3 separate regions of the Homo sapiens genome follow, and regions 1 and 2 are each linked to region 3. The links come from fine-mapping of genetic effects on gene expression. A gene starts in region 3. Each other region holds a variant in brackets. All regions are shown on one strand. Distances are between the middles of the regions.

Region 1 (5,851 bases), 24 kb after region 3:
CTGTGGGGGCAACATCCCCTCATCCAGCATGCTGTCTCTCCCACATCTGGGTATGAGCCTGGAGGTCCTTTGGTGGAATGCACAGGGGACAAGGTGGGGTGGGGGAGGGGGACTAATGAACAGACACTGGTTTTGGAACCTGCAGAATTCCCCTAGTGCAGTCTCGGGGGCCCCAGCCTCAGCCCAGTCCCGGGGACTCTTGCCCATCAAGCCATTTCCTGGAGATGGCCCTACTCCTCGGCTCCCTGAACATAAGGCCTTTTCGTGCCACAGAACAGTCAGTTTGCAGCAAGGCCTGGCAGCGGGGGCACACCCAGCCGAACTGCCCAGGAATGACCCCCTTCTGGGCATGTGCTCAGAGATGGGGTTCAGTGGGGTCAGGGAGAGCTTTCAGAGGCCTTGAAGGGTGCGGACTGCCATGGAGGAGAAGGAGGTAGGGCTGGGGGAGGGCAAGTCTTCTGCAGAGGGGATGGGCTGTAGGCTACAACTCCCTTTCCAGTCCCAGATGGAAGTCCCGTGTCCTTCCCAGACCTGTTTCCCACTGTCTAGTTCATTCATTCTGTGATCCTAGATTCCAGGAGGGTGGTGACTAGGGTGAAGCTGGATGGACAAAGAGTGGGGGAGGAGGACGGATGTGGAGGGAGCCTCTGCAGATATAGCCCAGGTGCCATGGATCCAGTCTGCTGCCTTGCCTTGCCTTGTACACCAGGAATAGAAACCTGAATTTCTTGTTGTGCCACGAAGGGAGAAGGGAGGTGGGCTGGGCTGTGGCCTGTCAGGTAGAGTTGGTCTAACAGGCTGGGATGGGCTGAGCAGGGGAGCGGTGACTGCAGGTGCAGAATGCTGTCCTAGAGCTGTGTTGCCTGGAGAAATGGTCAACCCCCAGCCCTCAGGGGTAGCCCCTGTACAGCCCAATCCTGTGCACCACTTTGTCCCCCCTCCCTCCCAGGGACCTGTCTGTAGCCCCAGTGGAACCTGCCAAGCTTTGCTAAGCCTAGAAGTGGGCAAAGTCAGGCCTGGGCCCTGCTTAGGAGCTCACAGGCTGGTGGTGGGGACCCTAAGGAAACCTAGAGAGTGTGGACAGGGATGGAAGGGAGCACAGGTGGCTGGCACCAGATAAAGGGCCCCTGGCACCCGAGGACCATTTCGGAGGCAGTGTCTGCCTCAGGACACTTCGGGTCCCCATTTCCCTCCTGAACCTCCCTGCTTACCAGCACTCTCCATGCCTGCTCTGCCAGCATCACTGCCTCCAGGCAGCCTCCTCTGTTTTCTCTCTGGCTCCTGCTGTCACAGCTCTGCTCACATGGGGGGTCAGGGCCTGGCTCCTTCTCAAGATCCCTGCCTGTGGGCAGAGACCTTCCCTGACTCACTCTATGACCTATGTCCAGCCAGTGGCCCAGGAAAAGTGGAAGGACAAACACTAGGCTTGAGAAGCCTGGCCCCATGGTGGCAGAGGTGAGGGCCTGGGCTTCCCCAAACCCTTGGTCTCATTGCTATCTAGTGAGACACCCCCTAAGCTGGGTTAGGACAGGTGCAGGGAGACAGGTGAAGGAAGGATGGCTTTGTCACCCATAAAACCTAGCCCACCTGAGACCAGCCTGGCCAACATAGTGAAACCCTGTCTCTACTAAAAATAGAAAAATTAGCTGGGTGTTGGTGGCAGGTGCCTGTAGTCCCAGCTACTCTAGAGGCTAAGGCAGGAGAATCGTTTGAACCCAGGAGGCGAAGGTTGCAGTGAGCCAAGATCGCACCATTGCATTCCAGCCTGGGCGACAGGGCAAGACTCCCATCTAAAAAAAACAAACAAAAACAAACAAACAAACAAAAAACCTAGTCTACCTGGAGACTGCAGCCAGACTGCCTGAATTTGAATCTCATTTCACCTCTTCTTGTGTGGCCCTGGGCAAGTGACTTAACCTTTCTGTGCCTTGGTTTCCTCATCCGTAAAAAGGGGATGCCAACAGTGCCCATCTCACAGGGTTGTTTTGCACAGTGCCTGCCACATAGCAGGTGCCCAGTCATTGTGAGATATTTCTATTATTGTTCCTTTACAGGTGCCCCAAGGTGGCCCCTGGATTCCAGAGCAGACTCCAGGTGCCACCAACCTCAGGTGGTTTCTGTTGGTTAGAGCTGGTGACCCTGAGCCTCTCCTGGCAGTGGGAACATGCCTGGCTGCCTTCCGCTCTGTCTGCTCCTTCCCAGGCTGCACGATTGCCCCCAGGTTCCTGCTCTGCCACAGCAAGTCAGGGTGATGGAATCTGGGAATCGTGACTCCCAAGCTCGGTCTGTCTCTCAAGGACTGGAGAAGTGTCTGGGGCCAGAGCCCTGATCTGGGGCCCAGATCTGGTTGGATCTGCACCTCGGGTCTGCCCCAGCTGTGGTGCTTAGTGTTGGGAGACCCTGGTTGGGAGCCCAGCAGACCTAGGGCATCCCATCGGATCCGTCCACTTACTTGCCTTGTCACCTTGGACATCACTGCGCTGTCCTGGGCTCAGCCTCCTCCTCTCTGGGATGGGGCAGTTGTGTGTCTGTCTTAGGACACTGGCTGGGAGGATCTGAAGTGGAGGGACACCTGAGTCACTTCCTGCTGTAAACCCTGGTGATGCCAGGTGGTAGCTGTTTCTCTTTCCATGGCATGATGTGGCTGGGGTCCTCCGTATATGGAAGCCCCTCTCCCTTCCCGGTCTTGCCTGCCCTCCTGGCCTCAGGGAACAGATGCTAAGTCATAGCTCCCTCTGGGTCAGAGGATGGGCTGGATGTGGGGTGTGGTCCAGGGCTGGGAGGGAAGACAGGAGGGCAGCGGGGAGGAGAGGGAAAGTCCCTTCTTCCTGCCTGTGCTTCCTGACGGGGTGCCGTTGGGGATGGATGAGACCAGGCGGCCTCACTGGGTTTCCTAGACCTGTGCTCTGCAGAAGCCGCCGTGCAGGTTGGCCGTGGTGCACCCTGTAGTGCCAACTGGAAGGAGGGGCCAGGTCTCAGGAGCTGCTCATGCCCTTGGGGGAATTCTAGCCCTTTCTCTGACCCTCTAAAACTCTGGTTCTTCCGGGCAGAGGGGACAGCAGGGTCCCCATCTTGGTGGGAACTAGGAGCCCTCTTCCCCATTCTCCCTTGCAACTGCTCTGCTCCACGATCTGTAGAGTCCCTACACAGCCCTGCTGGGATGACCATTTATCTCCTCTGCACAGGTGAGGCCCAAAGTTGCACAGCAGGGAGCAGACATTCAAATTCGGTCTTCCTGCCTCTGCCACCCTCTGCTGGCCGCCTGTGGTAGGACCGCAGAAGCTCTTGGGATGGAACTAGCTCAGGAGC[G/C]CCTGCTGGAGTGGAGGCAGGCAGAGGGCTGCTGCCATCTGCCCATGCTGTGTGGCGGGGACATGGTATTACACCTCCCTGGGCCTCAGTTTCCTTATCTGTAAAAGGGGATATTGCCCACTTCTCAGTGCCTTGGTGAGGATGGATTGTGGTGTCAGCAGGATGCCTGGTACATGAAAGGCATGTCTCAGTGTTTGCCTGTCCCCACCCTCCACCATACCCACAGCCACTGGGGAGCAGTGGCTTCCTCAGCTCAGTGAGGCGATGGGAGAGGAAGAGGGGCCTGCTCTGTTCCCTGGGCCAGGGCTAGGGATCAGGCCAGGCCCCACCCCCAGCTCAGGCCTTGGGGAGGGATGATTACAGCTGAGGGAACACAGGGTGAGCTGACCCTTCCTGGTTGCATCTCTTGGTGCTGGAGCCACCCATAGAGGTCTGGGCATAGCTTCCTAGCACCTGAAAATTGAAGGAGACTTTCATTCGCTTTGGGTCAGGCCCTGGGCTTGATACTTTACATACACTGATTCCTCCTCGCAAAGTAGAAATTATTGGCCATGCACATTGGCTCAAGCCTGTCATCCCAGCACTTTGGGAGGCTGAGGCGGGAAGATTGCTTGAGCTCAGGAGTTTGAGACCAGCCTGGGCAACATAGTGAGACCTCATCTCTACAAAAAATTTAAGAGTTAGCTGAGTGTGGTGTGTGGGCCTACGGTCCCAGCTATTCGTGAGGCTTAGGCCAGAGGATCGCTTGAGCCTAGGAGGTTGAGGCTGCAGTGAGCTGTGATTGTGACTGCACTCCAGTTTGGGTGACAGACGAGACCATGCCTCAAAAAGACAAAAACAAAAACAAAAAACCCCAAAATCCAACAACATAAAGAAATTGTTGTTTCTATTATATAAATCAGAAAGCCGAGGCTCAGAGAGCTCGCCAGATTGCCGATTGAGGAGCTGGAATTCAGTCTCCAGTCTGAAGCCAAAGCCCATGCTTTTCCCTTTCACAGCACTGCCTCAGGGGGCTTTTAAGGAAAATACCCCCACAGCAAGAAGAGGTGGAAAGCCCAGGCCAGAGCTCCTTGGGCAGGGTCAGGTGCAGAGGGCACCTGGTACTGGAGCCCCCCTGGGCTGCCTCTCTCTTGGCAGGCAGAGCAAGGGGCTTCCAGAAATTAGGAAGGGCTGAGCCTGAGAGCAGCCAGTTGCTCATGGATCATTCCCGGGTCAGCGGCTGCCCTGGCCGGATTCCCTGGCTGCGTCTCATGGAGCAGCCTCTTGGGCCGTGCCCACCAGTCTCTGTAGAAAATAAAAATGGAGGCTGGGCGCAGTGGCTTATGCCTGTAATTCCAGCACTTTGGGAGGCCGAGGCCAGCAGATCAGGAGTTTGAGACCAGCCTGGCCAACATGGAGAAACCCTGTCTCTACTAAAAATATAAAAATTAGCTGGGCGTGGTGGTGGGTGCCTGTAATCCCAGCTACTCAGGAAGGTGAGGCAGGAGAATTGCTTGAACCCAGGAGCTGGAGGTTGCAGTGAGCTGAGGTTGCACTACTGCATTCCATGCACTCCAGCCTGGGCAAAAGAGCGAGACTGTCTCTAAAGAAAAAAAGAAAGAAAAAAGGAAAAAAAGGAGTTTTTGCTCCACTTGAGCATTTGCTTGCTGTGTGCCTTTGACAAGTCACAGTCCATCTCTGAACCTCCATTCCTCGCCCATACAATGGAATGACAACTCCTCGCTCCTTGGGTGGCGTGAAGACCTGATGAGATTATGCGAGGCAAGTGCCATGCGGGGCCTGGCCCACCGCTCCCCACTGGCCCCTCGCTTTGTGCTCCCCAGCTGGGATATGGGTGTTTGTCCCATGCCCGCACCCCCACCCCACTTGAACCTGCTGTACCCCTGTGGGCTGGCGGGGGTGGGCACTCAGGCTGCTGGTGCTAGAGAAGGAAGGGAATGGAGCTCTTGCTGGTTAGGGAGGGGCGCAGCGGGTAGGAGGAAGGCAGTGCCCCGGGTCCAGCGCTCTGACGTCTTCCCACAGGTTCTTCATCAGCAAACCTTTAGCGGAAGAGCACTCTCTGGCCAGGAAGGGGAGAGGGCATCCCAGGCAGGACCGCGGGGTGGGGGGCAAGCGGGGAGCAGATGGGCCCTATGGGGCCCCAAGTCTGTGGTGGGAGGCAGGTGAATCACCATGCTGATGATCACACAGCAAGTCTGTGTCTGTCACGTCTGTGTCTGTCATGTCTCCTGCCATGGGGGGCATCCGCATGCTCCTCCGCCCCTCACGCTCTCTCCTCGCCTTCTCCGCAGGGCATCTGCGAGGACCCCCGCCTCTTTGTGGATGGCATCAGCTCCCACGACCTGCACCAGGGCCAGGTGGGCAACTGCTGGTTTGTGGCAGCCTGCTCGTCACTTGCCTCCCGGGAGTCGCTGTGGCAAAAGGTGAGGCCTCGGGCAGAGTGGGCAGGGTGCTGGGGAGTGTGAACGCAGCCTGTGGCCCTCACTGCCAGACAGGCGGAACCTGATTGTGGCAGATGAGACTTTCAAAAGCCTGTGCCAGG
Region 2 (5,851 bases), 45 kb after region 3:
AAGAAATGGGGCCGTTTGTCCTGTAGGGTTTCCCATGGTGTGGGTTTTGTTGACTGTGTCTTTTTGGTGGTGTTTGACATGTTCTCTGTCCCCTGCGTTTCTGTAACCTGGGACTTAGCTCCAGAAGCTCATACGGTTTAGGAACAATTTTTTTCTTTCTTTGTCACAGCTGCATCATGGAAGATGTTGTGTACTTCATTCGGGGGCACATCATGGCTAGTTATCTTTCTTTTTTGTGATGTTAGAAACCATCAGTGACCACTGCCTAAATTCATTCATTCTTCAGTGATTGTAAAATGCTGGTGGTCTAATATCATCAGTCCTTTCTCATTTATGAGCAGGAAGTCTCTTCCAGTTCAAGACTTCCCTCCATCTACTATTTGGTTACCATCTGGTACAGTTTGTCTACAGAGACAGGATAAATTTCCTGTAATTTTCCAGTTTAAAAAAAAAATGAGTTGATTCCCTACCCACCTCCGATAGTGACTAATTGTTTTTGTAAGTATCATTCTGATCTCATGAATTGGAACATATTTGATGTGTTTTAATCCATTGCTGTTTTTGCCCTTATTGATGCTCAAATTAGCCCATCTTTGGCCATCAGGAACCTCTTCAGGTTGGTTCCTGAATCCTTTGACATGGCCCCGGGAGTCTGTGCTGGCTTCCTTGGTTTCCGGCGTGGCGTGGGAGGGTTTTTGGTGTGCGAGCGCATCTATTTAGACAGTCTCCCTCCTGCTCAGCATCCTGGCTGACAGCAGAGCAGCTGAGGGGTGAGAAGGCTGGCTTGGGGCCCACCCCGTGCCAGGTGCAGGGGCGGTGAAGCAGGAGGGGAAATGGAGGCCCTTGGGGATCCCAGACTCTGGGTCTCCAGGCCCTGGAGCCTCATTAGCAGCTTCTTGAGCCACAGAGGGCTCAGAGCCAAGCCTCGAGTTTGACTAATGATCCTCCCGAGGTCCTAGCAGCCTGTGAGGGCTGCCCTTCCTCCCAGCCATGGAGTCCAGAGCATTCAGAACAGGGCAGGAGCAGAAGGAGGGGGTGAAGGTGATGGGCCAGGCCTGTGTTCTCAGCTTAGGACTCCCTGTCACTCTGTGCGCTTGGGCAGATCTTGTTTCTTTCTGGACCTCAGTCTTCCCATTTGTGCAGTGGGAATGGTAACCCTCACCTTGTATGGAACCGCTCTTTTTTTTTTTTTTGAGACAGAGTCTTGCTCTGTTGCCCAGCTCACTGCAACCTCCGCCTCCCAGGTTCAAGCGATTCTCATGAGTCAGCCTCCTGAATGGCTAGGATTACAGGCACGCACCACCACGCCCAGCTAATTTTTGTATTCTTTTTTAGTAGAGACAGAGTTTTACCATGTTGGCCAGGCTGGTATCGAACTGGCCTCAAGTGATCCACCTGCCTTGGCCTCCCATGAGACGTGTTTTTGATACAGCTGTCTGTCCTGAAAGCAAAGTGGGGAGAGAGTGCCAGGAGTCAGGGCATTTTTACTTAGAAAGGGCACAGAGTTGACAGAAAAGTGGGGGTGAGGAGGTGGGGGAAAGGAACAGCCAGTGTTGAGCCCTTGCTGGGTTCCAGACAGTGAGGTTGGGAAGTCCTGGGTTTGAACCCTGCCTCCCTCGCTTGAGCCTGTGGGCAGCCTTCTGCCAGCACCTTCCGGTAGTATTGCCTCAAAAGCCTGTCCTGAGGCTCAGGGGTGCTAGTGTGAGCAGCCTGGCCCTGTGCCTGGCACCCAACAGGGCTCCATTAGGGCAGTAGTACCTCTCGCTGCAGTTAGCATTTTCATTTTCTTGGTCTCACATGTCCCATTAGGGAGCATTTCCCTTTGCCAACATCCCTTTTGATGGTAAGAGTTTTGTTTGTTGATGCAAACAAAAGTGTCCTTAATGAGCATGCAGTGGGGAGCAGCTTTTGGCTGAAGTCTGTACACTCAGGTGAGTGCCGGCCTCCTGGTGTGCCTCTGGTTCCTCCGCCTGGGTGCCCCCCATACCTGGAGTGGTTTTCTTCTAGAAAGAGCTGCTTATGGTCCTGATGGGGCTCAGCTCCACTTGGTCCCGTGCCCAGCAGGGCCAGGGGTCATTCACCCTGACTTGACAGGGTGAGGGGTTTTCCCTTCTCTGCCCAGATTGTGGCTATTGTCCTCATCTGCTTGGGGGACGCCTGTAGCAGCACTGCGGATGCTGCTGAGTAGGGTCTGGCACTCCCTTCTGGTATAGCCCCGCCTGCACCCTGTGTAGCCTCAGCACTTTGCCTGGGTGCCTCCTCCTCTCCCCAGACTGGGAGCCTTTTGAGGGAAGGGACCATGTGATTCACCTGGTTGTCAGTGTCCAGCTTGGGGCTGGTTGCAGAGTGGTCCACAGTGCCAAGGAGCTCATTTTTCAGAGGCAGACAGATCTGGGTTTGAATCCTGGCTTCAAACCAAGGTTGGTCTGCCTCCAAAGCATGTGTGTATTTTCTAGCTGGGTGACCCTGGACGAGTTACGTGCCCTCTCTGGGCCACAGTATTGTCATCTGTGAAGTAGGGCTGGATAATAGTCATCTACTCAGAGGTTATTGTGATAATTAAATGGAGATAAGTCATGGTAGTCACAGGCATTTCCCAGATGCGTCATAAGTAATAAAATCAATGTCTCAGTGTCCCCAGTCAATGTCTTTGAATTCATTCATTCAGTCAATGCATGTTTACTAAACATACTCTCTGGGTCAGGCCCTGGGCTAGGTGCTGGGTGCATAGCAGTGACTGAGACCTATATGGCCCTGCCCCCAGAGAACTGACATTCCCAGTGTAACATCAGAGCTCAAAGTCACAGAGTTACTTAATTATAACTTGGTAAAGGTAAGTATCTCAGATGAGAGCTGCCAAGGGCCATGAGACTGAGATAGGGGTCCTGGCCTAATCTGAATAGTCAGGGAGGCTTC[C/T]TGGAGAAAGAGGATGGACACTAAAGGACAAATGGAAGTCTACTGAGTAATGAGGAGAAGGAAGAACCTGGAGCAGGGAGCAGGGGTGGGGGCTGCTGTGGGGGAGGCAGAGAAATGAGGCTGGGGGAGTGCATTGAGAGTTTGTGTCTTATTTTCTAGGGAAGTGACAGGACTGGGTTGGTCTATGTGGGGCGAGAGTAGATGTAGCTGCAGACACTGCTACAGTTGTCCCTGGGCGAGGAGATGGGGGATTGGGCCAGGGTGGTGCCAGTAGGATGGAGAGGAGGAGATGGATTTCAGGAGAATGGAGGCGCTCAGATTGGGCTGACTGGATGGAGGGAGGGAAAGCAAAGCAGCCAGTGGGGCTGCCAGCCTTGGGGTGGGCTGGATGGGTGGATGGTGGCGCTGGTCACTAGGCAGGAGCTGGTGGTAGATGTGGACGGAAGTCTCGGGGAAGGTTGCAGGGAGGCATGAGAAAGAGGAAAGCTCACACACTCTGAGAACAACAGCTGGAAGGAGGCCGAGGGAGCCTCCAAGCCTCGCGGAGATGGGAACCTGAGCCTGGAGATGGGGAGGATTCATCCGGGTCTCACGAAGGCTTGTGGCAGAGTTGGAATCCGAACCCAGTATTCCTTTACATTCCGATTCGCTGGAAGCACACGCCCCCATTTCCTCAGGAAGCCGGACATCCCCTCACTGTGTTCCCCCATCCTATCCCCCCTCCCCCTACCCAGGTCATCCCAGACTGGAAGGAGCAGGAATGGGACCCCGAAAAGCCCAACGCCTACGCGGGCATCTTCCACTTCCACTTCTGGCGCTTCGGGGAATGGGTGGACGTGGTCATCGATGACCGGCTGCCCACAGTCAACAACCAGCTCATCTACTGCCACTCCAACTCCCGCAATGAGTTTTGGTGCGCCCTAGTGGAGAAGGCCTATGCCAAGTAGGTGCCAGCAGCAGGCAGGTGGGTGGGAGGCCCAGACGGGGGTGGCACCGGATGGGCTCCTCGTGGTATTCCGTTAGCCAGGGCTTTAGGCACAGAGAAGTGAGGGGCTGGTGCAGGCACGCAGCAGGCTCAACCGCCAGGCCTGAGGGCATAGTCAGCTGAGCCTGTGCTGGGTGGGGTGGAGGCCTGGGCCCTGTAAGGAGAGGAATGTTGGTTACTCCCATTTTAGGGGGAGAAGACTGAGGCCCAGGCAACATCCTGTAGGTAGCTGGGGGCAGAGGCAGCACTCACATTTAGGACCATTCTCGAAGGTTCATGCTGCCATGCCCTGCCTGGGGCCTTGGTTGGGGAAGTGGTAACTGAGCTGGGGCCTGGTTGTGCAGGGTGGGCCACGTGCCTGCCTTCCCCGCCTGCTGGGCCTCCCTCTTGTCCACCATCCGCCTCTGCCTGGCTGACTGTCCATTCTGTCTTTGCTGACCCCTCCTTCTGCTCCGTGCCTTCTGCTTCTGTGTCCCCAGTGCCCAACACAGAGCCCAGCATAGAATGGGCACAAGCAAAGTTTTGCTGAGCTGTGGGGAACCCTGGGGAAGAGTGACTCGCGCAGGCCGTTGCAGGGCAGGGATACGCCTAGGCCAGGAGGGAGGAGGGAGGAGGGGCAGTGGGGTCAGAGGCCAGCCTCGCCAGCTCTAGGTGAGCCACTCTCTGGTTCCTCCTGCTAGGCCCATTTGTCAATCTTGCTGAAAAAATGTGTGTGTAGGGGCAGGAGCAAGGAGAGAGAGAGATAGAAAACAAGAGAAAGGGGGAGAGAGGAAAAGGAAAGACAAAAACTCCCAACATCAAAAACCCAAGAAAACACATTGGCAGGTTCCACTTTCAATCCTAAGAAAGGAAAGCCAGCCCCCTGGTGGCCACTGAGTCTCCACCACCTGGATGCAGGTCGACCCAGTGGCCTTGGTTGTTTTTTGTTTTTTGAAAAAACACAGTTTCATTGTGGTAAAATAGACAAAACATAATGCTTCTCATTTTAACCATATGGAAACATACAATTCAGTGGCATTCATTATGATCACAGTGCTATGGGCCATCACCACTATCTATCCCCAGAACCTTCTCATCATTCCCAGCAGGAGGTCTATACCCATCCGACAGTAACTCCTTCCCCTCCCCCTGACCATTGTTGGCACTTTGGAAAAGAGTTGCTTTTTTTTTTTTGGACAGCTGATTTTTTAAGATTGAGCCACTAAGGCTTAGGGGAATTTAAGCCTTATATGTTGGCCCGAGTGTTAAGAACTGGGTTCCAGTGTTGGCTCCGCCGTGGCCTGCTGCGTGACTGTAACAGGTTGTTTGACCCCTCTGAGTTTCAAAAACCTCCCCTATGAGGTAAAGGATGCAGCCTGGCTGGGGAGCATGAGCTGGGAAGTCTTTCCACATTGCTTCCCAGACTGGCAGGCTGTTACCAGGCCCTGGATGGAGGCAACACAGCAGACGCACTGGTGGACTTCACGGGTGGTGTTTCTGAGCCCATCGACCTGACCGAGGGTGACTTTGCCAACGATGAGACTAAGAGGAACCAGCTCTTTGAGCGCATGTTAAAGGTGCACAGCCGGGGCGGCCTCATCAGTGCCTCCATCAAGGTGAGAACACGGCAGTCCCCAGAGGCGACCCCTCCCCTTCACCCTCGCTGACTGAGATGGGAGACAACTGTGACATCCCACGCTCAGGTCAGCTCCTACGTATTCAGACCCTCAGCCTCGTGGGGGAGGGGAGAAGTTGGAAGGTGCAACCCCCTGCCCAGACCCTCTAGGCTGTGAAAAGCCTTTCCCGCACTGTTCAACCAAAACTTCTTTTCTGATCCTCTTGGGTTATGAACGTCTGTGCATCTGAGGGTGGTCCTGATTTCATTACTTGCTCGTGTTTTGGATGAGAAAGCTGAGGCCCAGTGAAAGCCAAGTTCAAACCCAACTTTAGCAGACCCTGTGCTGTGCTGGT
Region 3 (5,851 bases):
GGGCCAATGCTCTCTCCACCCGGCCACCAGGGTGGGTGTCCTGGGCAGGTCACTCTCGCTAGGCCTCTTTCCTCACCTGTCGGAGAAGGTGGAGCTGCTGGAGATGATTAAAGGACTGGGCCCTTCCAGTGCTAACCTGCTAGGGTGGCTGGGCTTCTCACTGGCCATGAGTGCATGTCTCTGCTTCTGGGACTCAATGTCTTCACAAAATGAGGGGCTGGGCCAGATGACAATAACACCAGCTAGCACATGCTGAGCTCTTACTCCAAGCAAAGGGCAACCATGAGGGCTCCGTATGTCCCGGCCCATTTAATCCCACAACAACTCCATGGTGCGACTGTTGCTATGCTGGCTTTATAGGAGAGGATACTGGCACAGTGAGGTTGGGTCACTTGTCTGAGGTCACTCAGCTAATATGAGCCCAGGCAGAGCCCATGCTTGCAACTACTGCACAATACCCTCTTGTGGCTCCAATGCTTTGAGATACAGAAGGGGGTCTGAGCATCCTCTGAACCCCACTGTTTTGTGGGCTGAGGCAAACATGCCTTCTCAGACACAACCCCAGCCCCACCTTGGAACACATGGGAGTTGCCCAGCCCAGAGACAATGCTGCCCAGTATCCTACACAACCGGGCCTTTATCGATCCCCGTGACTTGCCTGTACCTGGTCATCACACACTCCAGCTAGAAGCCCATTTTACAGACAGGGAAAAGGATAGAGGACCTGCCCAGATCACACAGCCAGTAACTGGCAGAGTGAGGACTGGAGCCCAGATCTACTTGGCTCTACCAAGTGCTGCTGTCTTCCTGACAATGACCCTTGGCCTCTGCCCTCCAGGAACTTTGGCCTTGCAGGGGAAACCTTGGCCCCACCAGCAACTCTGAGAGACGCAGCCTGAGAAGGGCCATAGGTGAGGGGTGGATGCTGAGCAAGGGAGCTTTGGGATGCTGCAGCACAGGGAGGAAGGAAGAGTCCTTCAGACGGCCACAGATCAGCACGGGCATGGTTTCAGGTGGGGAGAGTAGAGCCCCTGAAGTGACTTTTGAAGGGCTGGTGAAGCTGCTGCTCCCAGTACAGGGCATGGAATAAGGTTAGGGGAGATGGGGGAGTCAGATGGGGTGCAGTCTTAGAACACTCTTCTATGGGTGGCGGGTCTCAGCTGCATATGTGAAAGTCTTCTTTGGTTGGATAGGAGGCTCCTGAGGGGGCTGGGGCTACTCTTAAGGGAGAAGCATCTGGGTGGCCTGGGACAGAGGCAGGGAGGTTGGGGAGAAGCTAGAGAAGTCCAGGTGACTGAGAGTGAGGTGAGGCAGAGACTCCTCTTAGTGGAAATAAAGGAAAATCATGAGTCTTTTCAGGGGGAATTTCAGGCAGCTAGCTAGCTTTGAGAAGTAAATGAGCACCTTGACAAGCAAGAAGGTAATTGAAGCTTCAAACAAGGGCCACCCAAATAAGTTAGAGCCACAAGATGTCTGGTTCCCTATAGAAACTAAAGATAACATCTTGACCTATGTCCCTGAATTGTTTTTCACAGCTGTCACTTAGGCCTCAGATAAGGGGAAACTGAGGGCTGTTCTTTAAATTTCTTCCCAAGGGTTCTGTAAAGAGTCACACCCATAAGCCAATGCTTAACTCTCCTATCTGTGGACCCCAGGTTTTTAGACAGTCTTGCTTCCTAAGCCAATTGCAAATCACAGAATCTCTGAATCCACCTATGACCCTGCCTCAAAATGTCTCACCTTTTTGGGCCAAGCCAATGTATAGCTCCAGAGTATTTATTTATGACTTTGCCTATAACCTCTGTCTCCCCACCTTTAAAAAGCCTTACATGTAAACCATTGGGGAGTACGGGTCTTAAGCATTAGCCGACCTATTCTCCTTGCTTGGCACCCTGCAATAAATGCCTCCCTTTCTGCCGCTGCAAATCCTGGTGTCAGTGTTTGGCTTTGCTGCACTGGGTGGGCGGACCCAAGTTTGTTTCGGTAACACAAGAGGTTGACGAAATCATTAACTGAGACTTCGAAACAAATTGGAGGCGGAGAATGAACGGGCCTGAGACGCTCCACCAGCGAGTGGGCCGATGGGCTCATCAGATCAGATGGGCGTCTGTCCTGCTGCCTCAGGGCGGGGGGTGGTGGCACCCCTGAGCTCCTACTGTAGGCAAGAACTAGTCACTCCTAAACCTTCTCTATCGGATTCCCCAAGCGGCCTGGGGTGGGTAGAGATTATAGTCCCCGTTTTACAGATCAGGAAATGCAGGCTCCGTGCCATCCCAGGGCATTCCGGTAGCCAGTCACGGACAGAGAGTCAAACATGAGCCCGAGCCCGGGAGCCCATGGCAGCACGGGATTAAGTCCTCAACACGGGCCGGGGTCAGTTTTCCCATCTGACAGAGGCCCTCTGCTGCTCACAGGGGCCTGGGCTCCCACTTCTCCATCCGAACACTTGGGATGGATGTGAAGGTGGAGCCCGGAAAGGGAGGGGCGCCGCCCACCAAGTCCTGGTTCTGGCAGGCACCCTGGCCCTTGCGGGTCCTCGGTACTACACGCCGGCCCCAAGTCAGCCGCGGCCCCGGCCCGCCCTGTGGGGGCTGAACCCCAGCCCCGGCCCGATCCCTCACGGTGCAGCCAGCCCTTGGGAGGCTGCCCATGGGGATGCGCACCAACCGCAGACAGATAGGCTGGGAAGGAGAGAGAACGAGGGCCCGACCGAGCCGGTAGAGGCGGTGGGTGCCGCTAGGGGCCCCAAGTCCGCGTTCAACACAGGGGCTGGAATGAGACCGCTCCTCTGAGCGGCCGCCCACCGCACCAGTGCGCATGGGCGCACCCGGCCACCGGGCCGCCCACCCCGCCCCACGGGAGACCACGCCTCCGGCTCGCAACGGGCAAATGGGCGGAGGCCGCGGGCGGGGCGGGGCGGAGCCGGGCCCAGCTGGCCGAACCCGGGGAATGCGAGCGCCAGCCCCCGCCGCAGGCCAGTCCCAGCTGGATCTCCGGCCAGAGCCCGAGGCTGCTGCGCCGGGCGGCTGCAGCCTCCGCTCCAGCGCCCGCGCCGTGCCCTGCATCCCGGGAGCCCGGCTGGACCCGCGGCGGCTCGGCCGGTAGGAGGCGGGCGGAGGGAGGCGTGTGCTTCTGTGTGTGTGTGTGTGTGTGTTTCGGGGGGGTGTGTGCGGGTGCAGCGCGGGCCAGTGATTGCTCCGGGACCACGAATCAGTGGAGGGGGCTGCACCTCCCGCGGGCCCGGGGGGAAAGGAAGTGAGCGCTGGCTGGGGGGCGGGGTCCTGGAGCATCCGCCTGGGCCCCCTCGGCTCGTCCCCACCCCCACCCCCGGCGAGGAGTCTTTTTTTCACCTCCCTCTGGGTGTCTCCGAGTCGTTTTCCTAGTGCGGACGCGCTGGAAGCGCCTAACACCCGGGGCTAGACTGTCACTTCCTCTCATCTTCCTTACAGTTCCCCCCTTCTCTTCCCTGCTTAACCCCCCTTTCATCCCTGCAATCCACCAACCCCTTCTGGGTGCTCCACCACCCAGGCCTGGGGAAGGGGCAGGGCCGAGGCTCCTACTGCCCCAGCCTATCCGCTTCTTGGCACTACTCCCCAGGTTGAAAGGGGGCTTTTCTCCTTGACTGCAGGGCGGGCGCACGTGTGTGTGTGTGTGTGTGTGTGTGTGTGTGTGTGTGTTGCGGGAGTGTGGGGGAGTGGTCTGGGAGGGAATGGATCTTTGTTTCTCAGACCTCAGAGTTCCCACCTCTGTTCCTTTGCGTTGGGGGTCTCGGAAGACTGGCCTAGGGGACCAGAGGCGAAATAGGACAAAAGATCATTAACAGGTGCGACGTTCTCTCTCCCAGTCATTTCATGTGGTGGGATTCACCCCCAAGTTCCATACAGATCAGAAGAGTGGGGCACAGAGAAGCGAAGTCAGCTGCCCTCTCAGGATTGCTGAGCCAGAATTTGAACCCGGGTCCGCCTGGCTCTCATCCCAGAATCTTCTCCCTACACCTGTGGTTTAGAGAGAAAAGTACTGAGGGCGACTATCCCAGGACTCAGGGGAAAGAGAGATCTGGGCAGACTTCTTGGAAGAGAGGGGCTTACGGGTGAGGCTCAGCCAACTCAATGAGTCTGAGGCCTGCTGGGGGAACCACTGTGTTTTGCAAGGATTGACACCTCCCAGGGTCCTCGGGCTGGTCCTTGCTCCTGTCCCCAGGGTCTGGGGGTGGGGTGGTGTGGCTGCCTTTGCCTCCTGGGCAGGGTATGGTGGGCCCAGCTGCTGCTGCAGGCCAGGTCAGGCTAGTTGCCAGCACACAGAGGTGCTCAGGCGGGGTCTTTGCCCTGAGGAGCCTCTCTTCTGACAAGACAGGCAGTGGGTCCACAGATAAGGCCCTGTCCAGAGTTGTACCCAGTGCTGGGAGCACAAGACAGGGACTGATGGGTGCCCGGGAGCTGGGGATGAGTTCACTTGCAGATTCGTTGGGGCTGGGTCTTGAAATCCACCAAGCAGAAAAGAAAAGGCAGGTCATTGCAGCCCCAAGGAACAGCATGAGTAAAGGCCTGGCAGTGTGAAAATGAATGCTGGTGGGGTGGATTGCGGATTAGATAGGTCAGATGTGTGTCCAAGAAGGGCCACCTTTGGCTGCAGTAGTGGGTGGGCTTCCACTGAGGGCTATAAGGAGGAGGCCAAAGCAGGGAGAGGGCCCTCCCTTCTGCTCTCCTCTGCTCCCCACCCAGGGCTAGGCTTGGCAGGGGAGGAGGGACCCTGATAAAGTTTCCCAGAGCAGGGGTGCTGGGGGCAGGAGGTGCCCAGGGGCTAAGGGGCTACACAGGGTCCCAGTGCTGGGGGAAGGTAGGTGGGGCTGCCTCTGTGAGATGGGGACCACCATTGGGGGTGGAGCAGGTTGGGAGTAAGTTGACTGTTGGACAGGGTGGTTGTGAGATGCCTGTGGGTTTTTGTGGGTGACATCTGGGACACTGCTCCCAGGCCAGCACTGTCTCTGTCTGCTTCTGCGCCTGCTTTCCTGGCAGGCTGTCAGATCAGCCCTGGAGTCCTGGTCCCCAAACAGGAGGCCTCCTGCGCCCTCAGTGGGCACCCTCTCCTACCTGCAGGGCCTAAATCATGTGTCTGTTCTTTCTCTTGGCTGAGACCATCTCTGTACCTTCCTACTTGCCTATGACCTTGAGGCGGAGAACTTCCCTTTTCTGTCTCAGTTTTCTCATGTGCGGAATGGGGATAAATGCTGCCTATTCACAGGGACTCGGGGGATGATGAAGATGAACTTAGATCATGTCACTGAACGCATCTTTCTAAGTACATGGTGTCTGGTAGCCATTGTTACTAATAGCAGCTGGCAATCAGCATCACTTAGTTCCCTCCCTGGGGATGAGGGGCTGACTTTGGGAGAAGAAGGGTGGAAGGAAACAGTCCTCTCCTATTGAAACGGAAGCCTCTCTTGGCTTTAGTGGGTGAAGGGGACTTACGGGAGTGATCTGTATCTGCCTGACCAAGTCCCCTGGCTTCCCCCAAAAGCTTCTAGCCCTTGAGGAGAGGCAAGGGCTGAGCAGCCGGGAGCACCCTAGAGTACAGCATGTAAAGGTTGAACAGAAAGCCCAGCAGTGGGCCCTGGGCTCCCCCAGCTGCAAAGAGCAGGGTCTGCAACACCCCCCACCCCTCCCCAGCAGCCTCCTGGGCAGCTGGCAGCAGTCTCTCTGCAGCTGGGCTTTTCACCCGTTCTGTCTCTGTCCCCATCTATTCAAGTGTTTTGAGTGCCTTCAGAGCCCCTCCCAGGCACCTCTCAAGTGCCCTCAGAGAACTCTTCTGCCTCTCCATCCCTGGTCCCCGCTCAAAACTTTCCTGGGCTCAC

Alleles and levels. Alleles are on the strand shown, and positions count from the first base shown. SD is a standard deviation of normalised expression in the study named. Not every link is listed here.
As copies of C replace G in region 1, the expression in cerebellum of the gene that starts at base 2,978 in region 3 goes down (small effect, 0.36 SD a copy in GTEx).

What was found. PIP is the estimated chance that this variant, and not a neighbour inherited with it, causes the effect.
Region 1: its variant is the best candidate, but not a certain one, in a credible set for the expression of CAPN5 in cerebellum (GTEx, PIP 0.58).
Region 2: its variant is the best candidate, but not a certain one, in a credible set for the expression of CAPN5 in whole blood (TOPMed, PIP 0.87).

The regions. Positions count from the first base shown.
Region 1 is chr11:77,088,082-77,093,932 of GRCh38, forward strand. It overlaps CAPN5 (calpain 5), which reads left to right. Exons shown (of 13, transcript NM_004055.5): 3 at 5,601-5,732. Among named protein-coding and RNA genes, the nearest start is that of OMP, 12 kb to the right of the region's middle. The variant G/C (reference allele first, on the strand shown) is at 3,310.
Region 2 is chr11:77,108,939-77,114,789 of GRCh38, forward strand. CAPN5 (calpain 5) reads left to right here. Exons shown (of 13, transcript NM_004055.5): 4 at 3,651-3,859; 5 at 5,304-5,496. Among named protein-coding and RNA genes, the nearest start is that of OMP, 9.0 kb to the left of the region's middle. RefSeq lists enhancers at 4,186-4,780, 4,781-5,376, 5,377-5,851. The variant C/T (reference allele first, on the strand shown) is at 2,917.
Region 3 is chr11:77,063,994-77,069,844 of GRCh38, forward strand. CAPN5 (calpain 5) reads left to right here and starts at 2,978. Exons shown (of 13, transcript NM_004055.5): 1 at 2,978-3,101. RefSeq lists an enhancer at 2,137-2,637 and a silencer at 2,494-3,183.